7 linked regions of the Homo sapiens genome follow. The protein of the gene in region 1 interacts with the protein of each later gene in a biochemical or structural test. Each region holds a gene or a part of one and is shown in the gene's direction. Other genes may lie near its edges.

Region 1 (3,500 bases):
TAGGCTCAAAAAGATTGATCAGAAAAAGTATATTAGCAGTAGGGGAAAAGAAGTAGAGGTCAGGATCTGCCACCAAACAGTAAGGGTTAGGGTTAGGATTACCCTCACAAGTAGACTGTTGAATGAAGCATTACTCTGTTAACTGTAAGGTCAAATTTGTTTTCTATTCCAAGCACTGAAACAGGATTGTGAAGAGCACTGTCATTTACAGTTCTTCTCATAGGAGTAAAGGTTTTTAATTAAGGATATTTACAATTCATCAGCAATTTTAATTGTCAGAAAACCAGGAAGTATGTGTCTATTAGTTCATGGTATAGTATAGCATCTGAAATTAGGCTTTTTAACAAACAAGCATTCAGTCTGAAATTCTAAATTCTCTAAGGCATGTCAGAGTCAAAGTTATTTTTCTTCGTCTATATATTTCACAGCTGCACCTCTCTAAATATTTATTTTAAAAACTGTTAGGCCAGTACGGTGGCTCACATCTGTAATCCCAGCACTTTGGGAGGCCGAGGCGAGTGGATCATCTGAAGTCAGGAGTTCGAGACCAGCCCAGCCAACATGGTGAAACCCCATCTCTACTAAAAATAGGGAAAAAAATTAGCCGGGCATAGTGGCGCATGCCTGTAGTTCCAGCTACTCGGAAGGCTGAGGCAGGAGAATCGCTTGAACCCGGGAAGCAGAGGTTCCAGTGAGCAGAGATTGCACCACTGCGCTCCAACCTGGGTGACAGAGCGAGACTTTGTCTCAAAAAATAATAATTAATAAATAAAAACTGTTAAGGGTATAGATTTGTGGAACGTGTTTGAGGTAGGGTGTCTTTATACTTCAAGCCAATGGTTTTCAAAGTATGGTCCCTGGACCAGCAATATCAGAATTACCTGGGAACTTGTTGGAAATGCAAATTCCTAACACAAATCCCAGACTGGCTTTGAAGCCCAGCAATCTAGTTTAATAAGCCCTCTTCTAGGTGATTGTGATGCATGAAGAAGTTTGAGAACCCCCGCCTTAAAATTATAGAAGATGGGAATGTTATGTAATATTCTATTACAGACTATTCTCTGATATTTAGAATGTTCCACTGATTTTAGGGAGTATATATATATACACGTATATATATATACTATATATACTTTTTTTTTTTTTTTTTTTTGAGACAGAGTCTCGCTCTGTCGCCCAGGCTGGAGTGCAGTGGCGCGATCTCGGCTCACTGCAAGCTCTGCCTCCTGGGTTCATGCCATTCTCCTGCCCCAGCCTCCCTAGTAGCTGGGACTACAGGTGCCCACCGCCACGCCCGGCTAAATTTTTTTTGTATTTTTAGTAGAGATGGGGTTTCACCGTGTTAGCCAGGATGGTCTCGATTTCCAGACCTTGTGATCCTCCTGCCTCAGCCTCCCAAAGTGCTGGGATTACAAGCGTGAGCCACCGCACCTGGCCTATTTTTTTTTTTTTTAACTACTCTCAGTGGATCATATAAGCTTTCAGTTGCTACTCATCCTTGGGCACTCTGCCCTCATCTCTATTAGAACTCCTGTTATAGTACTTTACTTCATTGCCACCTCTATAGTCTGGGAACTCCAGTATATAAACAGTGAAGACAAGAGACCAGTCTGACTCGCTCTATTGTATCTCCTGTGCTTTGCAAGACAGATGTCTGGCTCTTATTAAGTCCTCCATAGTGGTTAATGATTGTACCTATTATAGCCCTCCCTTCATCTGCCTCTCCATACTATAGGAAGCACTCAAACACTTGCAGTCACTCAATGAATGAAGTTCCTTAATGGTAGGAAATCTTTTTGTATGCCAAGTTTCTATCTAATGAAACTGTCTTAACCCGCGAATTGAAAGTACTTTTAGGTGATGATGGATATGTCTGTGCCCATGATGGTGGTGATGGTTTCATGGGTGTATACTTATCTCCACACTCATCATTGTATACATTAATTATGTATAACTTTTTACATATCAGTTATACTTCAATAAAATGTTTTTTTAAAAAGTACCTGGTGGCTGGGCGCGGTGGCTCACGCCTGTAATCCCAGCACTTTGGGAGGCTGAGGCAGGCGGATCACCTGAGGTCGGGAGTTCGAGACCAGCCTGACCAACATGGAGAAAACCCTTCTCTACTAAAGATACAAAATTAGCCGGGCATGGTGGCACACACCTGTAATCCCAGCTACTTGGGAGGCTGAGGCAGAAGAATTGCTTGAACCCAGGAGGCAGAGGTTGCAGTGAGCCGAGATCATGCCATTGCACTCCAACCTGGACAAAAAGAGCGAAACTCCATTTCAAAAAAGAAAAAAAAGTACCTTGTGCATTTTGTATCATTTAGGCATTGGCTGAATTTGGGCTAGATAACGGTAACGATATATTAAGTACTTTATGAAAAATTGGCCTTAATTAGGCATATCTACGTATTTTATTAACTTAGGTCACACGACTAGTGAGTAGCAGAGTAAGAATAAGGTCTTTCAGACTCTTAAGGACTAGTATCTAGAGTACTAATGTCACCGTGGAACTTTAATGGAACTATCCATTGTATATTTAGATTATTTACTTTTGTTTTTTTCAAGGTAAGATTATACTTTGTCTTGATGCAGATTTTGATTTTTTTGTTTGTTTCTTTATTCTCCTTTCCCCCATCTCACCCAATTAATTTTGTTAAATTGATTTAAGAAACATTTAAATGTCTCTGTTGTCATGGCTTCAGGTGAGGGTGGAAGAGTACACTTCTTTTATTAGAAGCAGGCTTTGGGCTTTCTAGTCAACTTCATATAGCTTTAGTGCTTTCAGCTAGTTTCTTTCTGAAATTGGCACATTTGTGTGAACTATTTGGTTTCACTATATGGTATTCCATGTTATTGCTTTAAGCAGACTTCAAAATTTGCATTTATTTACCAGGGCAAAAATAAATTGTTTTTCCTATTCAGAAATTGAGAAGATTCAGAAAGGAGACTCAAAAAAGGATGATGAGGAGAATTACTTGGATTTATTTTCTCATAAGAACATGAAACTGAAAGAGCGAGTGCTGATACCTGTCAAGCAGTATCCCAAGGTAAGGCAAAAAGTGCTTTGGATCTTTGAGTTATCTTTATAGTTATGAGAGAGTCATGGGCTATAATAAAGACTCCTGGGGATTGTGATGCTTTAGAAACTTAAGCCTGTGAAGCTTCTCTTTCATGCTTGTAGTACCTGTTACTGAGAGTTGAAATATCTAAGTTCTTAACTAATAACATAGCTATAGCCAGGAAGGAAATATAATCATCTTTTTATTATCAAAAAGTTTCTTTCTCAAATGATTGCTCAGGCTACAAGTTCAAAGAAAAAAAAATTAAAACCTGAAGAGTTGCTCTTTGTCAAAAGACTAACCTGAAATCTAAATAAAAGGAAATATAATATGAATCCTCAATTGGTTGAAGTTAATTTTATTTTCTTACTAAAAGTTTACTTTTAAGTAAATGCTTTTTTTCTTCCTTTTTTTTTTTTTAGGAAAGCATTTA
Region 2 (3,500 bases), on another chromosome or scaffold:
TACACAGAGGACTGGGGCATCAAAAAACTCTGGAATTGGAATAGCATATTGGGAGTTCATGGAACATTTTCTCACCTGTTGTATTGTTTGAACTTCACAGCAGCTCCATGAATCCATGGAGGGCAGGAGTTACTATCCCTCTCTTACAGAGGAGAAAACCAAGCCCTAAGGGTAAGGTCACATAGCAAGTTCATGGCAGATCCTAGGATTTCAGATTCCTGCTATAGTATTCAGTTTATTCTCCCATTCTGGGGAAAATGATAATAGGATGGACCGTTCTATAGGAACAGAGGGTTATTTTGTTTTGTTTTGTTTTTCTTCCCTCTGGCCACATGTGTTTGACCAGCCTAGACTTCCATCTGTGGACAAGCTGGACTCATTGCCTCAATTTCAAAACCCGTCCTGCACTCATCCTTGCCACAACACCGGTGTCGAGATGCTTGGCCCACCCAGACCTTTCCCACACTCCTACATGGGGGTGAATGTAGCCGCTGATTGGGGGTGGGACACAGAAGAGCCTCACCCTCTTGACTTTCTGGTTTGTGGTGACACTTCCGCCTAAGCTTCTACAGAACATGGGAACCTGGGGCTCCATGCCCCAAATATCCTGAGAAGGGCTTTTCCAGGATTCTCTATGACAACTCAAGAGCATGCATTCATTCATGTGCTCTTTAATTTGTCATACATTTGTTGTGGGCCTTGCTACTGTGTGTTGGGCACACTGAGCTGGATGTGATTACTCCAGCCTCTGACTTGTTCATGGTGGCAGTAGATCTCTAGCGTGGTTTGTGTTCCATCTCACCATACCTACTCTCCTTAAAAAAAAACAAAAAACTAGCTTTCTTGGGCCTCAGTGGCTCATTGAATAAGTGAGAGACGACTTGTGCTTCCCTGGCTTTAGACTCTGGCATTTGCTAACTGTGCCAAGCACTGTGGAGACCAGTAGTGGACATAAGGTTAGGGTAGATACAGCCAGAAAGGAGATAAATAGGCAGACAGATAAAATTCTTATAGGATTTGGTGAGTTCTATGAAGGAAATAAGGCAAGAGGCTGCTCTGTCAGGGTAGGTGAGGGTGTGCTGTGATAACAAATGATGCCCACATATCAATGGCTGGCAACAAGGAAGGTTAATTTCCCCTGTTTGCTATGTGTGCTAACCTACACCACCGTCCCTGGAGAGTGGCCTCAGTGGTTCTGGGTGAGGCCTCTAGTACAGAACCTGAACACCCTGGGCAAACTAGGCTGGAGAGGGATTTGGAGTATGGAGGTTTAGAAGGAATTAATTTCTATGACTTAGGATGCATGTGGTGAGTGTGGCTTTGCTGTTGTGGTAGAGTAGAGTGCTGCCTGTGTGGGTCAAGAGACTGTCTTGGCTGACATCTTTGAAATAGGTATATTTGTGTGGCCCTTGCCTAATTGTCATCTCTGCCATAGCTGCCCCCGCCTTCCCCACCAACCCATGGCCCTACTTGAGCTGCCTGCTGAGCCTACTCTGTTGTGGCCACAGTATCCTCCTGCTGCCCAGAGTTTGAGTTTCTCGCTACTTCTGCCACTCATCACACTTGCTTCCCAGAGCTTTGCTGGGTGTGCTGAAGTCTCCAGAGAAAGTGGGGAATATGGGTGCCTAGAGACTTCTAGGGGGTGTTTTCAGCCCCTAGAGAGTAGAGAAGTGTGAGAAGGGGTTGGTCCCCGAATATTCTGTAGTTTTGGGGAAGAAGCAATGGGGACAGTGGAGTTGGTTGCCTTAAGAGAGGCTATGGTCCCAAGAGATGGGACTTGGAGAGTCTCTACTTGCATTCCTGGCTAAGCCCTTAATATTCTCGCACCCCTCCTTGCAAGACTAGTTCCTTTTGAGGTGGTTCTTGGCTAGCTTTTGAGAGGCTGCAGTGGCTGTGTGCCCAGGCTTAAGTCCTAGCTTTCTCCCCACTCTTTACCTCCTAGGAACCGGGCCCATCCTGGGGGAGGCAGGGAGGAGCTCCTTTTTATAGTCCACATGTAGGCTTTGTGTATAGGCTCTGCTGCTTCCTTCCGGCCCTGGCCCTTCCTGGTGTTGGCCGGTGGCCCTGGCTTCAGCAAGACTCAGGATGCAGAGTAAACGGGGCAGGGCGTTCTCCTACAGAAGACTGGCATCCCTTTTTACTGAGCCCAGGCCTGGCACAGAGGAGGCTGGAGTTAGGAAGCAAGAAAACGAGGTGACCCAGTCCTTGATCCTGAGAAGCTTGTGATCTGGACCATGCAGAAAACCGCTAATGCCCAGGGCTGGCAGGAGACAGCTGTGCCTAAAGTGCTGTAGGCTGGGCCTGAGGGCCAAGATGGAATCGCTTTTCTCCCTGTAGCAGCCCATCCTACCCCCTGGGGTCCCTCCACCTGCCAGCTGGCACACAGGTGTTGGGTAAAGCATCTGTACAAAGGCTGTGAGGGGCCTGGGCGCAAGGCAGCAAGGCTTGGGTACGGAGGAGAGTGGGTGGTCTTACTGATGTTCTGGGCCCTGACAGTGAACAGCTGGCCAAACTGGTGAGGAGTTGGGCCATGGCGAGTTTGGCCACTTGTTTGTGTGTGTTTAGTTCTTCCTGGGCACAGGTGGGGAGTTCACTTTGGGGTTGGCTTCCTGTTTTCTTGGACACCTGGGGATATGGTTGAGTTAAAATGTTCTGAGGGAAATGATTGTTGAGGGCATGGGCTTGGGTCATAGTGTCCTTGGCTTGGCCTTGCCCATGGTAGGAGTCGGGTATTGACCACACTGGGTTCTGGCTGTGTAGGTGTGGATGTGTGGTGGGAGAATTCCAACCCCACCTTGACTTCAGCCTAAGGCCCAGAGAGTGTGGGCCTGAGTTCACAGGGTGACTAACCCTAGGAAGGAGTGAAGGAGAGCTCCAGTTGGCCATAGGTCCCACAGGTTTCTCAGCTTACTTGGGGGCAGGAGGTGAGCTAAGGAATACAACTCCATTCCCTCAGTTGGGAGGTTGGGCAGCGATGGGGGCAGGGGTGATGGTCCTTCTCTGAGGCACTGAAGACCCACTTTATGGTCACCCTATTCTGCCTGATAGTCCACCACCTGTTTGGAGGCAGCTCCCCTCTTCCTGCCCTAGTCACTTCCTCCACCTTCAACAGTAATTGAGTATAATGTGCCTGTGTTAGCTTGTCCATCCTAACTGGGACTGTGGCCTTTTCTTGGGCGTTCTTAGCATATCTACCAAGGAGGTTGGAAAAGGTAACATATGTCACTTTGTTAAGGATTTTGCTGAGGGCCTTTTGAGGCCAGCAGTGAAACACAGAGCATTCCCTCCAGTGAGAACAGAATGTCTGTTGCCAGACTGATCACAAGAGGATGGCCTGGTTCTGGCCTGAGAACTGGTCTACACCGGAAGCATGAAGCTCCATACAATCATGTGTGCTAGTAAAGTTTGGGCAAGCAGCTGTCCTAAGCAGGTAAAACGATAGGTTATTCAACTTCAACTTCAGAGAAAGAAATCCAAGGTAGCCATCTCTCTCAGTAGGG
Region 3 (3,438 bases), on another chromosome or scaffold:
CTGGGGACGCAGGGAGGCGTCGGAGTTGGGGTGGCCACACAGCTCACGCTCTCCCTCCCAGTGCGGGACACGCAGGCTGTGCGGCACTACAAGATCTGGCGGCGTGCCGGGGGCCGGCTGCACCTGAACGAGGCGGTGTCCTTCCTCAGCCTGCCCGAGCTTGTGAACTACCACAGGGCCCAGAGCCTGTCCCACGGCCTGCGGCTGGCCGCGCCCTGCCGGAAGGTAGCCGCTCCGCCCTGACTTGGTCACGCGGGGTCAGGCTGGGGGGTCACAGGCTGGCATTTCCTACTGGGAGAGGTTGGCCGGGCAGCATGGGAGGGGTCCTGACTCACTGACCTGGGGCCCACTGGAGGGAAGCCCATGGTTCTGCAGAGCACAGGTGTTTGCCTGAGTTGGGGGTGGGGCCAGGAGACCATCCCCGGGCCTGGCCACTCTCGGAGAGGCCAGCGGCACTCTGCAGGGTCCTGGCTCCGGTCTGTCTGGGTGTTTCATGCTGGGCTGGGGGCAGCCCCCAGGAGAGTCCACCCTTGTGTCAGACACTCAGAAACCCCCAACCCAGGCTGATCGTGGCCCTAAATCTGAGGCTAAATCCAGGCTCCCTGTGCTGGCTTCAGACTGGCACTTCCTGAAGGATGAGCCCCTGCCCTGTGTCCCCGACTCTTCCTCCAGCACGAGCCTGAGCCCCTGCCCCATTGGGATGACTGGGAGAGGCCGAGGGAGGAGTTCACGCTCTGCAGGAAGCTGGGGTCCGGCTACTTTGGGGAGGTCTTCGAGGGGCTCTGGAAAGACCGGGTCCAGGTGGCCATTAAGGTGATTTCTCGAGGTGAGTGGGCCCCGATCAGGGCTCTGTGTGGCCCCGTGCCTGCCCTGGGCCACCCTCCCACCCCGCCAACAGGGACCTCTGGCCTCGAGCCCCAAGCAGCACCCACAGCGTCCATGCGAGAGTGGTTCCCTTTCAATTGCACCTATGTTTTTACCTAAATACATTTATTATAAAAGAAAATTTTAGGCCGGGCACGGTGGCTCACATCTGTAATCCCCACACTTTGGGAAGCCAAGGTGGGCGGATCACGAGGTCAGGAGTTTGAGACCAGCCTGGCCAACATGGGGAAACCACGTCTCTACTAAAAATACAAAAATTAGCCGAGTGTGGAGGCATGTGCCTGTAGTCCCAGCTACTCGGGAGGCTGAGGCAGGAGAATCGCTTCAACCCAGGAGGCGGAGATTGCAGTGAGCTGAGATCGCGCCATTGCACTCCAGCCTGGGCGACAGAGCAAGACCCCGTCTTGGGAAAAAAAAAAAAGAAAGAAAGAAAGAAAATTTAAAATCCTTGACGTAATGGAAAGCCATTAAAATAGATCACTGGAAATGGGTAAAACTTCCCTGGAACCCGTCTGGGCCCCAGCAGAGGTCTGGCCTCTATGTCAGAGGTCTGGGCCGGGCACAGGAAGAAATCGGGTGGCCACCACAGCCCCGTGGGTACGCCAGGCTGGGGCCCTGTGGGGCCGGCTGCATCTGCCATTTCGTGGCCTCGGGAGCCAGGTGCCCTGTCGGGGGCAGGAGGTCTGTGTGTCCTGCACAGCTGCTGGGTGTGATGGCTGCTGTGTGTGGGGGCAGGGCCTTGGCCTCTTCCTTGGGGCCTGGGGGGTCAGGGGCTGCATCCACCGAGGCCACCCGTCCCCGCAGACAACCTCCTGCACCAGCAGATGCTGCAGTCGGAGATCCAGGCCATGAAGAAGCTGCGGCACAAACACATCCTGGCGCTGTACGCCGTGGTGTCCGTGGGGGACCCCGTGTACATCATCACGGAGCTCATGGCCAAGGGCAGCCTGCTGGAGCTGCTCCGCGGTGAGTGGCATGGGCCGGGGCTCTTGCTGGAGGCAGCGGGGGCACGTGAGGAAATAAAGTGCACACCCCCCCCCCACGTCTACACACACACACACGTAGACACACAGACACACAGACACACACATGCACACACAGACACAGACACAGACACACAGAGACACACACGCACAGACACACATGCACACACACATGCACACAGACATACACATGCACACACAGACACACACACAAGACACATCACATGACACACACAGACATACACATAGACACAGACACACACACAGAGACACACAAAACAGATCACACGGACACACACAGACACACACACAGATCACACGGACACACACAGACACACACACACACAGACACACACTGATCCAGACACACACACAGACACACACAGATCACATTGGCTCAAAGACTTCATCCTCTCTAAGTTCCATTATTTCCTTTCTCACCAAAACCAAAGACAATCGCTGCCAGGGAATGGAGATGCCCGTGCGTGAAGGCGCAGTTTGGATTCCGATGTTAGAATGGGAGGGAACGTTGTGGTATAGGAAAAATGCCGTGTGTGTCTGAGGAGAGCTACACTGAGGCACCACGCACGTTTGCGCTCTGAGCGAAAGGCTCCGTACCCCTCGCCCTCACACAAAGGGCTTGATCATCTCAGACAGTCCCCACGCCCTTCAGGGTCCTCCGGGAGGGAATGTGGGGTAAAACAGGCACCACCAGGCCGCAAGCCGCTGACAGCCATTCTCCTGTTCGAGTTCCCACTGCCTACATCACGCAGTCATGAGCCTCTTCGCTGGTCCTTCTGCGTCCAGCTCCTCCCGCGTCATCACAAACTTCCAGAAGGGAAATCGCTGGGCTAGACCACTAGGAACTGCTCCTTGGTTCTTTTTTTTTTTTTTGAGACGGAGTCTCACTCTGTCGCCCAGGCTGGAGTGCAATGGCGCAGTCTCGGCTCACTGTAACCTCCACCTCCTGGGTTCAAATGATTCTCCTGCCTCAGCCACCTGAGTAGCTGAGATTACAGGCACCTGTCACCACGCCCAGCTAATTATATATATATATATATATATATATATTTTTTTTTTTTTTTTTTGAGACGGAGTCTGGCTCTGTCGCCCAGGCTGGAGTGCAGTGGCGTGATCTCGGCTCACTGCAAGCTCCGCCTCCCGGGTTCACGCCATTCTCCTGCCTCAGCCTCCCGAGTAGCTGGGACTACAGGCGCCCGCCACCACGCCCGGCTAATTTTTTGTATTTTTAGTAGAGATGGGGTTTCACCGTGTTAGCCAGGATGGTCTCGATCTCCTGACCTCGTGATCCATCCGCCTCAGCCTCTCAAAGTGCTGGGATTACAGGCGTGAGCCACCACGCCCAGCTTGCTCCTTGGTTCGTGATAAACAGTTGCCTTCCAGAAGGGCGGTAGCTGGCCTGCAGTTCCAATTTTCAATCAGGCCAGCTGCCCTTTGCCCCGGCCCCTCCTCTGAGCCCGCAGAGCTTGGAGGCAGATGAGACATGGCCCAGCCTCCCCAACCCTTCCCCACCTCAGCTGGCTCAGCTGACCCCAGGCTCTGCTCCACT
Region 4 (3,500 bases), on another chromosome or scaffold:
TGTCAGGTATTGTTCTAAGTGCTCAATTTATTTAATTCTCACAGTAACCCTATGAAGTGAACTATTATCTCTACTTTTTGGTGAAGAAATTGAAACACAGAGATACGATAACTTTTAAGTTCATTTAGCCAGCAAGGTGGAAAACTACGAATATGTGGTAAAAAATAATATTGTAGACTATTGGAGAAAGTGGCTTGTTCAATGTATGGTGCTAGGACTATTGGTTATCCATTTTTTAAAAATGTTTTCTGCCTCATAGGCTAAAAAAAATCAAAGGAAATCTAAATGACAAAGAGCAATAAAAATTCTAAAATAGAAGAAAATGTAGAATACTACTTAAAAATATGTATGTACCTAGATTGAAAAGAATCCTCCGTGCATGATACTAAAGAAGTAATAAAGGCGGGTGGGTCACTTGAGGTCAGGAGTTCGAGGCCAGCCTGGCCAACATGGTGAAACCCCGTCTCTACTAAAAATACAAAAATTAGCCGGGCATGGTGGCGCGTGCCTATAATCCCAGCTACTTGGGAAGCTAAGGAAGGAGAATTGCTTGAACCTGGAAGGCGGAGGTTGCATTGAGCTGAGATCGGGGCCACTGCACTACAGCCTGGGCGACAAAGTGAGCTTCCGTCTCAAAAACAAAAAGTAATGAAGGAAAAAACGTGGCCGGGCGCGGTGTAATCCCAGCACTTTGTGAGGCCAGGAGGGGCGGATCACGACGTCAGGAGTTCAAGACCAGCCTGACCAACATGGTGAAACCCCGTCTCTACTAAAAATACAAAAAAAAAAAAAAAAAAATAGCCGGGCCTGGTGGCGAGCACCTGTAATCCCCCCTAATGGGAAGGCTGAGGCAGGAGAAACGCTTGAACCCGGGAGTCAGAGGTTGCATTGAGCCAAGATCGCACCACTGCACTCCATCCTGGGCGACAGAGCGAGACGCTGTCTCAAATAAATAAATAAAGGAAAAAAACGTTTTTTATATGTGTGATAAACGTCTGCGTTCGCAGTCAGAATTTTGTTTACTGGTGTATTTGATTTAAGATTATTAGAAAGTTGAAAAACAAGAATTAGGGTGGTTCTCTGCGTCACCAAAGAATTGTTTAAATGTGTAAGAAAGTGGTATGAATCATTGTTAAGAAACGATTTCATTGGTTGAATCACAGAAAAGTGGCTGAAGGAAGTTTCAGTGGCTTCTGTGTTTTCAAGCTGTTTTCCTTTGGAGGAAGCAATAAAATTTAATTTAAGATTGTGCTATTGTATATGCTTATTAGATTTTGCTGAATACTTAAATGTTTTTGTTAAGTCTCGGGAATAGTAGTATTGCCCGCTGTGGCTATCTGAAATTATAATGTAAGTATGAAAATGATTTATGTCATTTTTTACTGTTACACTGATTTACATGATACCCAGGAATTGATTTATTGTATCAAGTGGAGCACAGTGGGCTTTTTTTTTTTTAATTAAGTTCTGGGATCCATGTGCAGAATGTGCACATTTGTTACATAGGTATACGTGTGCCATGGTGGTTTGCTGCACCTATGAACCCATCATCTAAGTTTTAAGCCCCACATGCATTAGGTATTTTTCCTAAATGCTTTCCCTCCCTTTCCCCCCACCACCAACCCGGGTAACAGGCCCCAGGTCCTGGTGTGTGATGTTCCCCTCCCTGTGTCCATGTGTTCTCATTGTTCAACTCCCACTTATGAGTGAGAACATGTGGTGTTTGGTTTTCTGTTCTGGTGTTAGTTTGCTGAGGATGATAGCTTCCAGCTTCGTCCGTGTCCCTGCAAAGGACATGAACTCATTCTTTTTTATGGCTGCATAGTATACCATGGTGTATATATGTACCACATTTTCTTTATCCAATCTGTCATTGGTGGGCATTTGGGTTGGTTCCATGTCTTTGCTATTGTAAATAGTGCTGCAGTAAACATATGTGTGCATGTGTCTTTATAGGAGAATGATTTATATTCCTTTGAGTATATACCCAGTAATGGGATTACTGGGTCAAATGGTATTTCTGGTTCTAGGTCCTTGAGGAATTGCCATACTATCTTCCACAATGGTTGAACTAATTTACATTCCCACCAACAGTGTAAAAGCGTTCCTATTTCTCCACAGCCTCGGCAGCATCTGTTGTTTCCTGACTTTCTAATAATCACCATTCTGACGGGTGTAAGATGGTATCTCATTGTGGTTTTGATTTGCATTTCTCTAATGATCGGTGATGATGAGCATTTTTTCATATGTTTGTTGGCCGCATAAATACCTCCTTTTTTTTGGCAGCATAAATGTCTTCTTTTGAGAAGTGTCTGTTCATATTCTTTGCCCAGTTTTTGATACGGATATTTGTTTTCTTGTAAATTAGTTTCACTTCCATGTGGATTCTGGATATTAGACCTTTGTCAGATCAGTAGATGGCAAAAGTTTTTCTCCCATTCTGTAGGTTGCCTGTTCACTCTGATAGTTTCTTTTGCTGTGCAGAAGCTCTTTAGTTTAATTAGATCCCATTTGTCAATTTTAGCTTTTGTTGCAATTGCTTTTGGTGTTTTCATCATGAAGTCTTTGCCCATGCCTATGTCCTGAATGGTATTGCCTAGGTTTTCTTTTAGGGTTTTTATGGTTTTGGGTTTTACATTGAAGTCTTTAATCCATCTTGAGTTAATTTGTGTATACAGTGGGCTTTTCTTGATATCTTAACGTTTTTGAAACCTTAAGAGCTGCAGAAAATGGCCAAGCTAATGAACAAAAATTAATGACAAGAGTCAGTCATTACATATAGGGATTGTTTCTTGAGTGAGTGATGCAGTGTTTTAATTATGATAGTTACTGATCAATGCATACTTGCTTCATACTGTTTTAAAAGTGAAAAACTCACTGTAGTTTGTGAGAAGTCACTGAAGTTTGGCTGCCAACTTTTAATGATCCTCACTGTAGCAATAATTTTTGTGTGTGTTTGGCATTTTAGACCATCATGGTTAAAGCTTTAATTTATATAGTTGGCTGATAATCCTAACTACATTTTACAACTCTTACATTTGTTTCAGGACAGCTTCATAAGATAGTTATGTTTCAAATTGTGGTGTTCTTCCCCCCCAGGTTATATATTGGCACAAATTACATTATATTATTAGGAAAGACACCAATTTGCCAGACTCAAGCATGTAATCCCTGCACTTTGGGAGGCTGAGGCGGGCATATCACCTGAGGGCGGGACTTCAAGACCAGCACAACCAACACGGCCGAAACCCCGTCTCTACTAAAAATACAAAAATTAGCCGGGTGTGGTAGCACATGCCTAAAATCCCAGCTACTTGGGAGGCTGAGGCAGGAGAATCATTTGAACCCAGGAAGCAGAGTTTGCAGTTGAGCCAAGGTTGCAGTGAGTCGAGATAGCACCACTGCACTCCTGCCTGGGCAACAGAGTGAGAGTCTGTCTCAAAAAAAAAAAAGGAAAGACACCAATAAATAATGAGGTGGAAACCAATCTGTGGCTTCGA
Region 5 (3,500 bases), on another chromosome or scaffold:
TTCTTCAGATTCTCATCAAGATGATGAAATAAGCTCAATGGAACAAAGCACAGAAGACAGCATGCAAGATGATACAAAACCTAAACCAAAAAAAACAAAAAAGAAGACTAAAGCAGGTTTGCTATACAAATTAAATGAAAAATTGTGTATGTTGGTAGAAATAACTTGATTCTAGGAATTTTAGCCCTTTAAAACTGATGGGTATACTTGAAAATAATTCAATATAGGATATTTGGTACTTGTTCTTGAATTCATCTAGATTAAAGCACACATGTATTTGTAGCTGTAGGTCTCTGATGAGTTTGTATCACTTGAGTCTTCTCTGATTTTTTTTATTTTTGAGATGGTGTCTTACTCTGTCTCCCAGGCTGGAATGCAGTGGCACGATCTCGGCTCATTGCAACCTCCACCTCCCGGGTTAAAGCGATTCTCCTGCCTCGGCCTCCTGAGTAGCTGGGATTGCAGATGCATGCCACCATACCCGGCTAATTTTTGTATTGTTAGTAGAGACGGGGTTTCACCATGTTGGCCAAGCTGGTCTCGAACTCATGACCTCAAGTGATCCACCTGCCTCAGCCTCCCAAAATGCTGGGGTTACAGGCATGAGCCACCATGCCTGACCTTCTCTGATTCTTGTCATACTTTAAATTCAACTCTAAAATGATACTGACTTTGTAGTTGCTATTGGGTCATAGAGGATTTCTTCTTTAAACCATTGAGTTTACATCCTCTAAATGGTTAGGACTCAGTTGTTGAAAGCTATAAATGGTCAGCAGCCAATAAACATTTCTGATGTTAAGGCTGCATCCTGTCCAACATGGTATCCTCCCAATTCGTCAGCCTAATACCACTTCTTTCCTTTCTCAACTTTTCTCTTTGCCTTGTTGATTTCTGTCTTCTTCTTTTCTTGTTTGTTTTCTCTTATTTTTCTTTACATGTTCTTTTCTACTCATACATCCTTTTTTAGTCTTTCAGTTTCCATTTGATTGGCCAAAAATTGGGATTAAAATGGGCAATTTTAGATTTTATAGTACTTATTCATTAGAAGATGTAAGTGATGATGTTTTGTGGTTTCTATAATTAAAATTTTAAAATCTTTTGTTGAAGCATAATGTGTATATAGATATATATAGAAAAGCACTAAGCAGTATACTTGTTTTATGTGTTTCTATATATATAAAGCACTAAGCAGTATACTCATATACATATTTTTAAAGTTTTTTTCACAAACTGAACATACCTATAAAATCATTACCTAAATTTGGAAACAGAACATCATTAGCACCCAGAAAAATCACCTTCCCGTTAGTTGCCCTGTGGGAGTAACCACTACCTGGACATCTAACAGAGTTTATTTTTGCTTATTTTTATACTTTAATATGAATAGAATGATAAATACTGTGCTCCTTGTGCCTGACTTTTTTTACTCAATGTTAATTTTGTAAGATTTATACTACTGTTGCTTGCATACAGTTGAGCTTATTCATTCTTAATTCTGTTTTTGTATTATTTAGATATCCATTGTGTGAATATACCACAGTTAATTTGCCTATTTTATTGATGGTCATTTGAGTTGTTTCTAGTTTTAGGCAATTATAAGTAAAGCGGTAATTCACATTGCAGTCACGTATTTGGTAAGCACATGCATACCTTTATCTTGGGCATATTGTTAGGAGTAGAATTGCTGTCATAGATTATGTATATTTTTTGCTTTAATAATTACTTCCAGTTTTCCAAAGTTGGTTTACCAGTTGACACTAGCAGTGTTTGAGAGTTCCAGTCACTCCACATCTTTACCAACATGTAATACTGTTTTTTAACGTTTTAGTCATTCTTAGGAGTGACTAAATTTTCCTCATTCTTCAGGAATGTATAGTGATATTCATTTTGGTTTTAATTTTATTTCCATGGTAACTATTGAAGTTGAGTGTTTTCATGTTTATTAACTACTTAGATTTTGACATTTGTAAATATATTCAAGTTGTCTGCATTTTTTAAAACACAGAATTGTCTTTTTCTAATTGATTTGTAGTGATAGGTTTATATACCTCAATATGAGATTATTCTCAGATATAAATACCTACCCACATTTATATCGCAAATGTCGTCCTACTCTGGTTTGATTATTTCTCTCTCATTGGTGTCTTTTGAAAAACAGAAATTTTTGTATTGTCCAGTTTATCCATTTTTTTCCTTTGATGGTAAGTGCTGTGATTTAAGAAATCTTTCCTAAGTTCTGAAGATATTTTTCTAAAAGTTTTATTCTAAAAGTTTTACTGTTTCTGTTTTACTTTCACATTTAGATATGCAGTTCATCAGGAATTGGTTTATGTTTATGATAGGAAGCAGTGATCAAGATATCCATGTGAATATATATTATGATTGACCCAGTACCATTTACTGAAGAGAGTGTCTTTTTCCCTCTGTGTTGCAGTGTCACTTTTCCCATAAATAACATGACTGTGTTACATGTGGATCAGTTTTTGTAGTCTCTATTCTTTTAAATTAGACAGTTTGTACCAACACTACCATGTCTAAATACTGTAGCTTTTTAATAGGTCTTGCTATTTAGTATTATACTCTAGGTTTTTCCTTCTTCATCTGCATTGTCTAGGCTATTCTTTACTTTGCATTTCTGTATGGATTTTAGAAGAGCTTCTCCATTCTCCCTCTTCCTTTTTACCCTCATTCTGTCTTGCAAGCTGTGATTTTGATCTAGACTGGGTGAATCTAAAGAGTCACAGCATAACAACTCTCTAAAGAGACTTGACATTTTTACACAGTATTGATTCTCAGGCTATGAATTTGGTATGCACTTCCATTTATTTGCATCTTATTTAATATATCCCAGCAATATACATTTCAGCAGAATCTCTCCTTAGATTTATTCCTGGGATTTGATGTTTCTTAATGATATTATAAATGGCATTTAAAAAATTTTTGTTTTGTATTTGTTGCTGGTACATATATGTAGAAATGTATTTAAAATTTTTTAACATTGTGTCCATTGATTTGCTAAATTCACTTATTGCAAGAGTTTATTTATTTATTTATTTTTGAGACAGGGTCTTGCCCTGTCACTCAGGCTGGAGTGCAGTGGCGTGATCTCAGCTCACTGCAACTTATACTTCCCAGGTTCAAGCGATCTTCCCACCTCAGTCTTCCAAGTAGCTGGGACTACAGGCATGCACCACCATTCTTGGCTAATTTTTGTAGAGACAAGGTCTCACTACATTTTCCAGGCTAGTCTCAAACTCCTGGGCTCAAGCAGTTCTCCCACCTCAGTCTCCCAGAGTGCTGGGATTACAGATGTGAGCTATCGCGGCCCACAGAGTTTATTCTTACATTGTTTGGATTTTTCTACATATGCAATCATGTAATACGTTAATAACGATAGTTTTATCGCTTCTTTTTCAGTCCTTATGCCTTATCATTTTGCTTGCCTTGATACAAATCAAGATTTAATCTCTTTATTATCAATCTTTTTTTTTTTTTTTTTT
Region 6 (3,500 bases), on another chromosome or scaffold:
GTTCGTTTTCTTTAATAACTTAATTGTTTTAATATTTTCACAGAAGACACAGGTTTTACAAAATTAAAATCCGCTTCGGCTTGTATGTTGTAAATAACCAATAGAAGATAATCAAAATGTTTATTGAACGAATGGATACTGTTCTGTCATCAAATACTCTGTTTTTCTGAAAATTACATAACATGACAATTAAAACTCAAAACTCAATTACGGCATCAAGATCCTAAGTTTTGACTTTTATCTATTTTCGGTTTTCTAGAACAGTAATTCTTTAGATCAGTAATTTCAGCCTTAGTTTTTCTATTCTTAAGAATGCCATGAAATCTCAGCATAAAATAAGTTTTTGTTTAAAGTTTATGAAGATTCACAGCACCTGAAGGATGAATATGTTTTGGTTCAAAAGGCAAATGACAATATGGTGTTGGAGTTTCAGAAATGCAGAGAATCATTGGGTCATGCTATTTTATTTGCTTTATGTAATGGCTTGCTATTTTAGTGGTTGATATTGTGGCTTTGCATTGTTGTAGAGTTGAAGAAGAGATCTCATCTGTGCCAAATTTTTATATCACAGGAACTTTCAGTCATGTTATAAAGGTGATGTTTGTGGTGCACGCTTTGTTGTGTGAATATTTACAGGAAGTTTTAGTAAGATCTTCCATTGTTTAGAACCCTACATGGCTTAGGTCACCTTCAGTTCACATTTAAACAGTTTTATAATATAAGTCCTATAGCGAGGCACAACTGCTTTTCTTTAAAGGAAATAATCTGTTTCTATTAAAGTGTCTTGTCTTATTGGTAGTTCGTGTATGGCTATGGTAGGGTATGTATTATCTCTTTTCTTCCTCTCAGCTGCTCCAGTGCCACAATTAGGCTGAGTATTGCTCAGCTGCAGCTGCTGGGTGATTACTAACCATCCAGCTCCTGTCTAAACTCAGAGGCAGATTTAGCAAAAGGAGCTATAGTAACAGTAGAGGGTGAAAGAGAAGAGCCAGTGCTGCCGCCAATATCGTTTTCACATGTCTGTATGCCAAGGAATCGTTGGCTGCAGCAGCACTACTGTTGTCTTGGAACTAGCAGACTTGATGGCAATATATCCTGGTCTGCGTTGGGTTTACCTTTAAGATCTGAAAGCCCACTCCAGGAAAGACAGAGAATCCTGTAATTTTAGAGTATAGAATAATGTACTGTTGAGGTACTAATGGACTGAGTTACAAGCCTCTGTGCCTCAACTCCTTTTCCCCCCCAAATCTAGGGTAGCAATGCCCTTCAGTTTCTCTTGTTCAAATGTACAGTAAGCTGTGAGACTGCAGGTTCCTTGAAGCATTATACTTCATTTCACTTTAAGCTGTGATTCTTAGAATTGCTTCTTTTATTGTTGTTTAGGGGAGGGGAGTAGAATTGCTGGCATATAGGTTCTTTGGACTCTACTTTCTCCTAGGAAGTGGAAGGCCTTCAAGAGGGATAACTTCTAGAATTAGCTATACATTGCATATCCGTGGTGGCTGCCTGAATTTTGCTAGTAGGAACTCTGCATTCTTTTCCTTTTGTTCTTTCTTTATCCCTGGCGTTTGAGAAGATGGACATCAACAGTTGCAAATACGTTATCAGCTATATATGGCAATCCCCAGACTGGAAGATGCCATAGGCAAATTTTGCTGCTTCTAAAATGCTGCTCAGCTTATAAATATGCCAAGCAAATAGCAGCAGTCGCATCTTTTGTGTTTTTGTGTTTTGCTTTGTTTTTGAGACAGGATCTTGCTCTGTTGCCCAGACTGGAGTGCAGTGGTGCAGTCACAGCTCACCGCAGCCTTGACCTCTGGGGCCCAAGGGATCCTCCCACTTTAGCCTCCTGAGTAGCTCGGACCACAGGTGTGCACCACCATGCCTGGCTAATTTTTTTTTTTTTTTTTTGATGAAGTATCACTCTACTGCCCAGGCTGGTGTGCAATGGCACGATCTTGGCTCACTGCAACCTCTGCCTCCCAGGTTCAAGTGATTCTCCTGCCTCAGCCTCCCGAGTAGCTGGGATTGCAAGCGTGCACCACCACGCCCGGCTAATTTTTGTACTTTTAGTAGAGACAGGGTTTCACCATGTTGGCCAGACTGGAGCATGCCTGGCTAATTTTTGAATTTTTTGGAGAGATGGGGTCTCACCGTGTTGTCCAGGCTGGTCTCAAATTCTTAGGCTCCAGCAGTCCACCTGCCTGGGCCTCCCGAAATGCTGGGATTACAGGCCACCACACCCAGCCACAGCAGCGTCTTGTCCTTACTTTTACCACTACTATCTACTGAAAATCTGGAGATATTCCTTTGACTTATCTTGTCTTTGGAATTTGGTAGTTTGGGGTTTGGCATTTGGGATGGAGATTAGAGAGGATTGAGAAAAGTAGTGCTCAAACTTGTATAACCAGAGGAAGGATGAGGTACAGTTAGACCATGCATTTGAACAGTAAGAAGTACACATCATTATGGCATATACTTAGCAAGAGATTGGTGTTATGACCTCTTTGTGCTCCCACAAAACACTTATGTCAAAACACACCTCTCCTTGCACTGTAATTATTTCTTTCCATGCTTGTCTGTTATTCTTGACCTAGTATTCACTGTGTCAAGGAACTGTTTTATAGCAATCTTTGAGAACAGCCCTTAGCACAATAAATACTAAATAAATTCTGAATTGTATGTAGGGATGTGGTTCTGGGCAGATTTATATGAATTACAGCTATGGACTTTTCGCAAACAAAACAAATCTTTTGAGTACACCTCTACTAAAATGTTATAAAACTAGCTTAATACTTTTTCATAGCTCGAAGTTAATTCTTTAGATTTTTGCTCTCAAGGTTTTGTTCTAGAAGGTGATTTTACAAAATAGCTTAAGCAGTCCTTCAAATATGAATTTAAAGGTCATTTTGATATTTCTAATATGAACTGAAAATTCATTGTAGTTGAAGTTAAACTAGTCTCTAGTAAGGTTTATTTTAAATAAATACGTTGTACTATTTTAGTGAAGAAAGTCCAAGTTATGCTGAAGAAAAATCCTAGATTTTTAAAAAATGCATTTGGTATCTCATCACAGTAGTGACAATCAGTATTACAATTATGACTTGTTCATATATACCTAGGACAAAAAGAAAAAGAAGTCCTGATTTTCTTGCAGTAATGTGTGTGAAGGAATGCATAATTCATAGGTGTACTTTTGCTGGGTTATTGGGGGTGAGGACGGAACAGGAAGTGCTAGGAGGAAAAGTACTGACCCCTGAAACTTCAAGATTGTCTGGTTTTCAGCCTCTATTCCCAGCAAAATGTGGATTCTAGGTTTTCTTCAACTGACTTAAGAGGATTTTCACTTCTCTAATTTTTTAATGTAACTTTTCAGTTTCTTAGCATTAAGTAGAAATTGGGGTGAGGTGAGGAAGTTGGTGGTGGTTGTGTATAAGTTAATACTTCACATTGTTTCCTGGCGAATGTATTGACTTCTAACTTTTGTTCTGATGTGATTA
Region 7 (3,500 bases), on another chromosome or scaffold:
ACATTTTTTTGGTTTACATTTCTAACTTTTTGTTTTCCCCCCTCCTTCCCTCAAATGTTTTGATGATTCTCCAGAACCAACGAAACGTATGCTTTCCTTCCAAGGGTTAGCTGAGTTGGCACATCGAGAATATCAGGCAGGAGATTTTGAGGCAGCTGAGAGACACTGCATGCAGCTCTGGAGACAAGAGCCAGACAATACTGGTGTGCTTTTATTACTTTCATCTATACACTTCCAGTGTCGAAGGCTGGACAGGTAGGAGATGTTGGGGTACCTGCTCGTGATTGCTGCCTCTGGGTGCTGAGCTTGAAAAATGATACTTAAATATTTGAACTTGAAATTTTTCCAGTACCGGGTTTCAACTGAGCCGCCAACGCACATCTGCTCTCTTGCCCACTTGTGACATGCCCAGCTGCCAGTTTTTCTCCTTCCTTTTGTGGTGGTGGTTATATTATCAGTATGACTAGGGACCTTTTCTAGATTTTTCTATCTGGGTCTGCTGCTTTCTAGACTCTGTTCAGGTAATAAATTATTATCAATGTATATCTGAGCATCCAGTCTCCCTTTCATGAGACCTGTCAGTTTGAGGGACTGAAATGCTCAGAAATGATGGTTATGTATGCTGTGGCAGGAGATGCATACCTGGAGTTTCATTAAGTTGTTATGGTGTGTTGCTTTTAGTTAATCAGTTGAATTAATCAAAAGGGAAGAATTTGTGTTCCTGTCCTTTTAATAATTGTTATTCTGGCATATTTAGACACTTAAAGATGTGCATCATTAAATCTTAAATGGAAAATGAGACTCGTGCACATAGCTTTCCATTTTTTATCTTAATGATCATGATTTCCAATGTGGTGGGTTTTTTTTTTTTTTTTTTTTTTTGAGACGGAGTTTCGCTCTTGTTGCCTAGGCTGGAGTGCAGCGGCGCCATCTCGGCTCACTGCAACTCTGCCTCCTGGGTTCAAGCGATTCTTCTGCCTCAGCCTCCTGAGTAGCTGGGATTACAGGCATGTGCCACCACGCCCAGCTAATTTTTGTATTTTTAGTAGAAACGGGGTTTCTCCATGTTGGTCAGGCTGGTCTCAAACTCCCGACCTCAGGTGATCTGCTCGCATTGGCTTCCCAAAGTGCTGGGATTACAGACATCAGCCACCGCGCCCGGCCAATGTGGTAGTTTTGTAACAAGACTCTAGTTAGAATTTTTTTCTTTTTTTTGAGGTGGAGTTTTGCTCTTGTCACCCAGGCTGGAGTGCAGTGGCGCAATCTCAGCTCACTGCAACCTCCGCCTCCCGGGTTCAAGCGATTCTCCTGCCTCAGCCTCCTGAGTAGTTGAGATTACAGGCGCCTGCCATCATGCGTGGCTAAATTTTTGTATTTTTAGTGGAGACGGGGTTTCACCATATTGGCCAGGCTGGTCTCGAACACCTGACCTCAGGTGATCCTCCCGCCTCAGCCTCCCAAAGTGCTGGGATTACAGGCGTGAGCCACTGCGCCCAGCCAATAATTTTATTTAATAAGAAAAAGCTTTTCATTTTGAAATCTAGAATACCTCCACTTTTGAAAATCTTTGATTTCCCAAATTTTTCTTGCTATGCACTAGTTAAAAGATAAGGTATTATATAATGAGCAATAGCACAGATCTCAAACTGTTTGAGTTGCATATGGGCCATACCTTCTTTTCTGTAACGTGCATACCCATGCATTAACACTTGTCGCCTTTTCCAGATCTGCTCACTTTAGCACTCTGGCAATTAAACAGAACCCCCTTCTGGCAGAAGCTTATTCGAATTTGGGGAATGTGTACAAGGAAAGAGGGCAGTTGCAGGAGGCAATTGAGCATTATCGACATGCATTGCGTCTCAAACCTGATTTCATCGATGGTTATATTAACCTGGCAGCCGCCTTGGTAGCAGCGGGTGACATGGAAGGGGCAGTACAAGCTTACGTCTCTGCTCTTCAGTACAATCCTGTGAGTAAAATTTTAATGGTTACTTTCCCTTCCTAGAAACCCAGAAAGAAACATAGTGTGATATTTCAGACACTAAAGTAGGTTTTCACATGGAATAAAGTCAAAAGTTTAGAAATGCGTATGTACTTAAAATGGTGAAATTGCTTTTAGCTGGTCTGCGTTATGCTAAAATATTTGTTTTATTTAGCAAGTTATATTAAAAAGCATAAAAATTCTTATTGCAAGAAACTACATCAATTTTAAAATAACACGTATAAAGTACAGAGCACATGACTTTTTTCTGTTGTGATTAACTTTGGATAAATTCTGATAAGTGTTTGCAAGTTAATTGATTTTCAAGGAATGGTGGATAATGGGTCTTAATCTGTAAAATCTGTAATATAAAATAGTTTGAAACAAGATGCCACTATATGGAATGATGTGAAAATTAGGCTACAAAATTTCTTCCTCAATATCCTATTCTCTTCTCTTTCAATGTAATTAGAAGTCATAGAATTTAGATGATACTACTTATACTGGGCTTTTGATTAGTTTAAAAATTTTTTTTGTCTAAGTTGCAGATGTGTTCTGGGAACAAGTAAGGCTCAGCTGGCAGACCTTAAATTCATACTGTGTTTAGGATCTCCGAAAGATACAAAAACATAAGACTTTCCCTCAGAACTTATGATGTAGTTAGAGAAAGTAGATGTAAACTTAAGAGGTAAATGATAGTGGGGTTATAGAAATCTAGAAAAAGTTCCCAAGTTACATTGTCAACATTCAGTTTTGTAACCAACCTGGAAATGGCTAATAGTTTATTTTAGCTACCGTTTACTGAAAGTCTGTGTGGTCAGACACTCTACTGACAGCTTTAAATGATTGGTCTTAGTTAATCCTCACAATAATTCTTCAAAATAGATGATATTATTTCTGATTTTTATCAATTAAAAAAAAACCATGGACTCAGGGTTATGTGGCTTTCATGGGGACAAAGCTAGTAATGAAGTATTAATAGATATTAAAACCTGAGTCTGAATATCCTCAAAGCAAATGTTGAAGTGAAAAGAAATAAAAGTGGGATGATGTGCCCAGAGGGCACTCACCCATCAAAGCAGCCCTTGAGCACAGTTAAAAAACCATTGATCATATTTTGCTGTCCCTTATTTTTTGGTTAGGAAACTGAAACTAAATTTAGTAGTTTGTTCAAAGATCCGAAGTCACTTCTCATGATGATATCTATTAACAATTTTTGTAGTTAATTTTGAGAGTTTAAACGTGTCCTTTTTAGAAAATCCATTGCTTTAAAAAACATTTTTTTTTAAGAGATGGAGTCTTGCTATGTTGCCCAGGCTGTACTCATACTCCTGGGCTCAAGCAGTCCTCCTGCCTCAGCCTCCAGAGTAGCTGGGACTATAGGTGTGTGCCACCACACCCAGCTTCTAAATTTATTGGTTTTTGAATGGATACAGTGAATACCTCCAGTTAGCACTCTTGGAGGTAGCAAATGAAACTAATTTCTTGTCTATCTTTTCTGAGACACTCAGTGTATATA

Evidence for each region.
Region 2: the proteins of KHDRBS1 (region 1) and PLCG1 form a complex in vitro, tested with the Homo sapiens proteins (one study listed by BioGRID).
Region 3: the proteins of KHDRBS1 (region 1) and PTK6 form a complex in vitro, tested with the Homo sapiens proteins (one study listed by BioGRID).
Region 4: the proteins of KHDRBS1 (region 1) and TJP1 interact in a test that uses a peptide from one of them, tested with the Homo sapiens proteins (one study listed by BioGRID).
Region 5: the proteins of KHDRBS1 (region 1) and AHI1 interact in a test that uses a peptide from one of them, tested with the Homo sapiens proteins (one study listed by BioGRID).
Region 6: of the proteins of KHDRBS1 (region 1) and YES1, one has a biochemical effect on the other in vitro, tested with the Homo sapiens proteins (2 studies listed by BioGRID, with this or other methods).
Region 7: the proteins of KHDRBS1 (region 1) and OGT form a complex in vitro, tested with the Homo sapiens proteins (one large-scale study listed by BioGRID).

Annotation. Positions count from the first base shown.
Region 1 is NC_000001.11:32,027,368-32,030,867, forward strand, and holds part of KHDRBS1 (KH domain-containing, RNA-binding, signal transduction-associated protein 1), read left to right. Parts: intron 1-2,930; coding exon 2,931-3,055; intron 3,056-3,500. UniProt on the Homo sapiens protein: Recruited and tyrosine phosphorylated by several receptor systems, for example the T-cell, leptin and insulin receptors. Once phosphorylated, functions as an adapter protein in signal transduction cascades by binding to SH2 and SH3 domain-containing proteins.
Region 2 is NC_000020.11:41,144,043-41,147,542, forward strand, and holds part of PLCG1 (1-phosphatidylinositol 4,5-bisphosphate phosphodiesterase gamma-1), read left to right. Parts: intron 1-3,500. UniProt on the Homo sapiens protein: Mediates the production of the second messenger molecules diacylglycerol (DAG) and inositol 1,4,5-trisphosphate (IP3). Plays an important role in the regulation of intracellular signaling cascades.
Region 3 is NC_000020.11:63,530,939-63,534,376, reverse strand, and holds part of PTK6 (protein-tyrosine kinase 6), read left to right. Parts: intron 1-61; coding exon 62-225; intron 226-672; coding exon 673-826; intron 827-1,689; coding exon 1,690-1,851; intron 1,852-3,438. UniProt on the Homo sapiens protein: Non-receptor tyrosine-protein kinase implicated in the regulation of a variety of signaling pathways that control the differentiation and maintenance of normal epithelia, as well as tumor growth.
Region 4 is NC_000015.10:29,815,969-29,819,468, reverse strand, and holds part of TJP1 (tight junction protein 1), read left to right. Parts: intron 1-3,500. UniProt on the Homo sapiens protein: TJP1, TJP2, and TJP3 are closely related scaffolding proteins that link tight junction (TJ) transmembrane proteins such as claudins, junctional adhesion molecules, and occludin to the actin cytoskeleton.
Region 5 is NC_000006.12:135,459,741-135,463,240, reverse strand, and holds part of AHI1 (jouberin), read left to right. Parts: coding exon 1-116; intron 117-3,500. UniProt on the Homo sapiens protein: Involved in vesicle trafficking and required for ciliogenesis, formation of primary non-motile cilium, and recruitment of RAB8A to the basal body of primary cilium.
Region 6 is NC_000018.10:805,743-809,242, reverse strand, and holds part of YES1 (tyrosine-protein kinase Yes), read left to right. Parts: intron 1-3,500. UniProt on the Homo sapiens protein: Non-receptor protein tyrosine kinase that is involved in the regulation of cell growth and survival, apoptosis, cell-cell adhesion, cytoskeleton remodeling, and differentiation.
Region 7 is NC_000023.11:71,536,104-71,539,603, forward strand, and holds part of OGT (UDP-N-acetylglucosamine--peptide N-acetylglucosaminyltransferase 110 kDa subunit), read left to right. Parts: intron 1-74; coding exon 75-255; intron 256-1,725; coding exon 1,726-1,969; intron 1,970-3,500. UniProt on the Homo sapiens protein: Catalyzes the transfer of a single N-acetylglucosamine from UDP-GlcNAc to a serine or threonine residue in cytoplasmic and nuclear proteins resulting in their modification with a beta-linked N-acetylglucosamine (O-GlcNAc).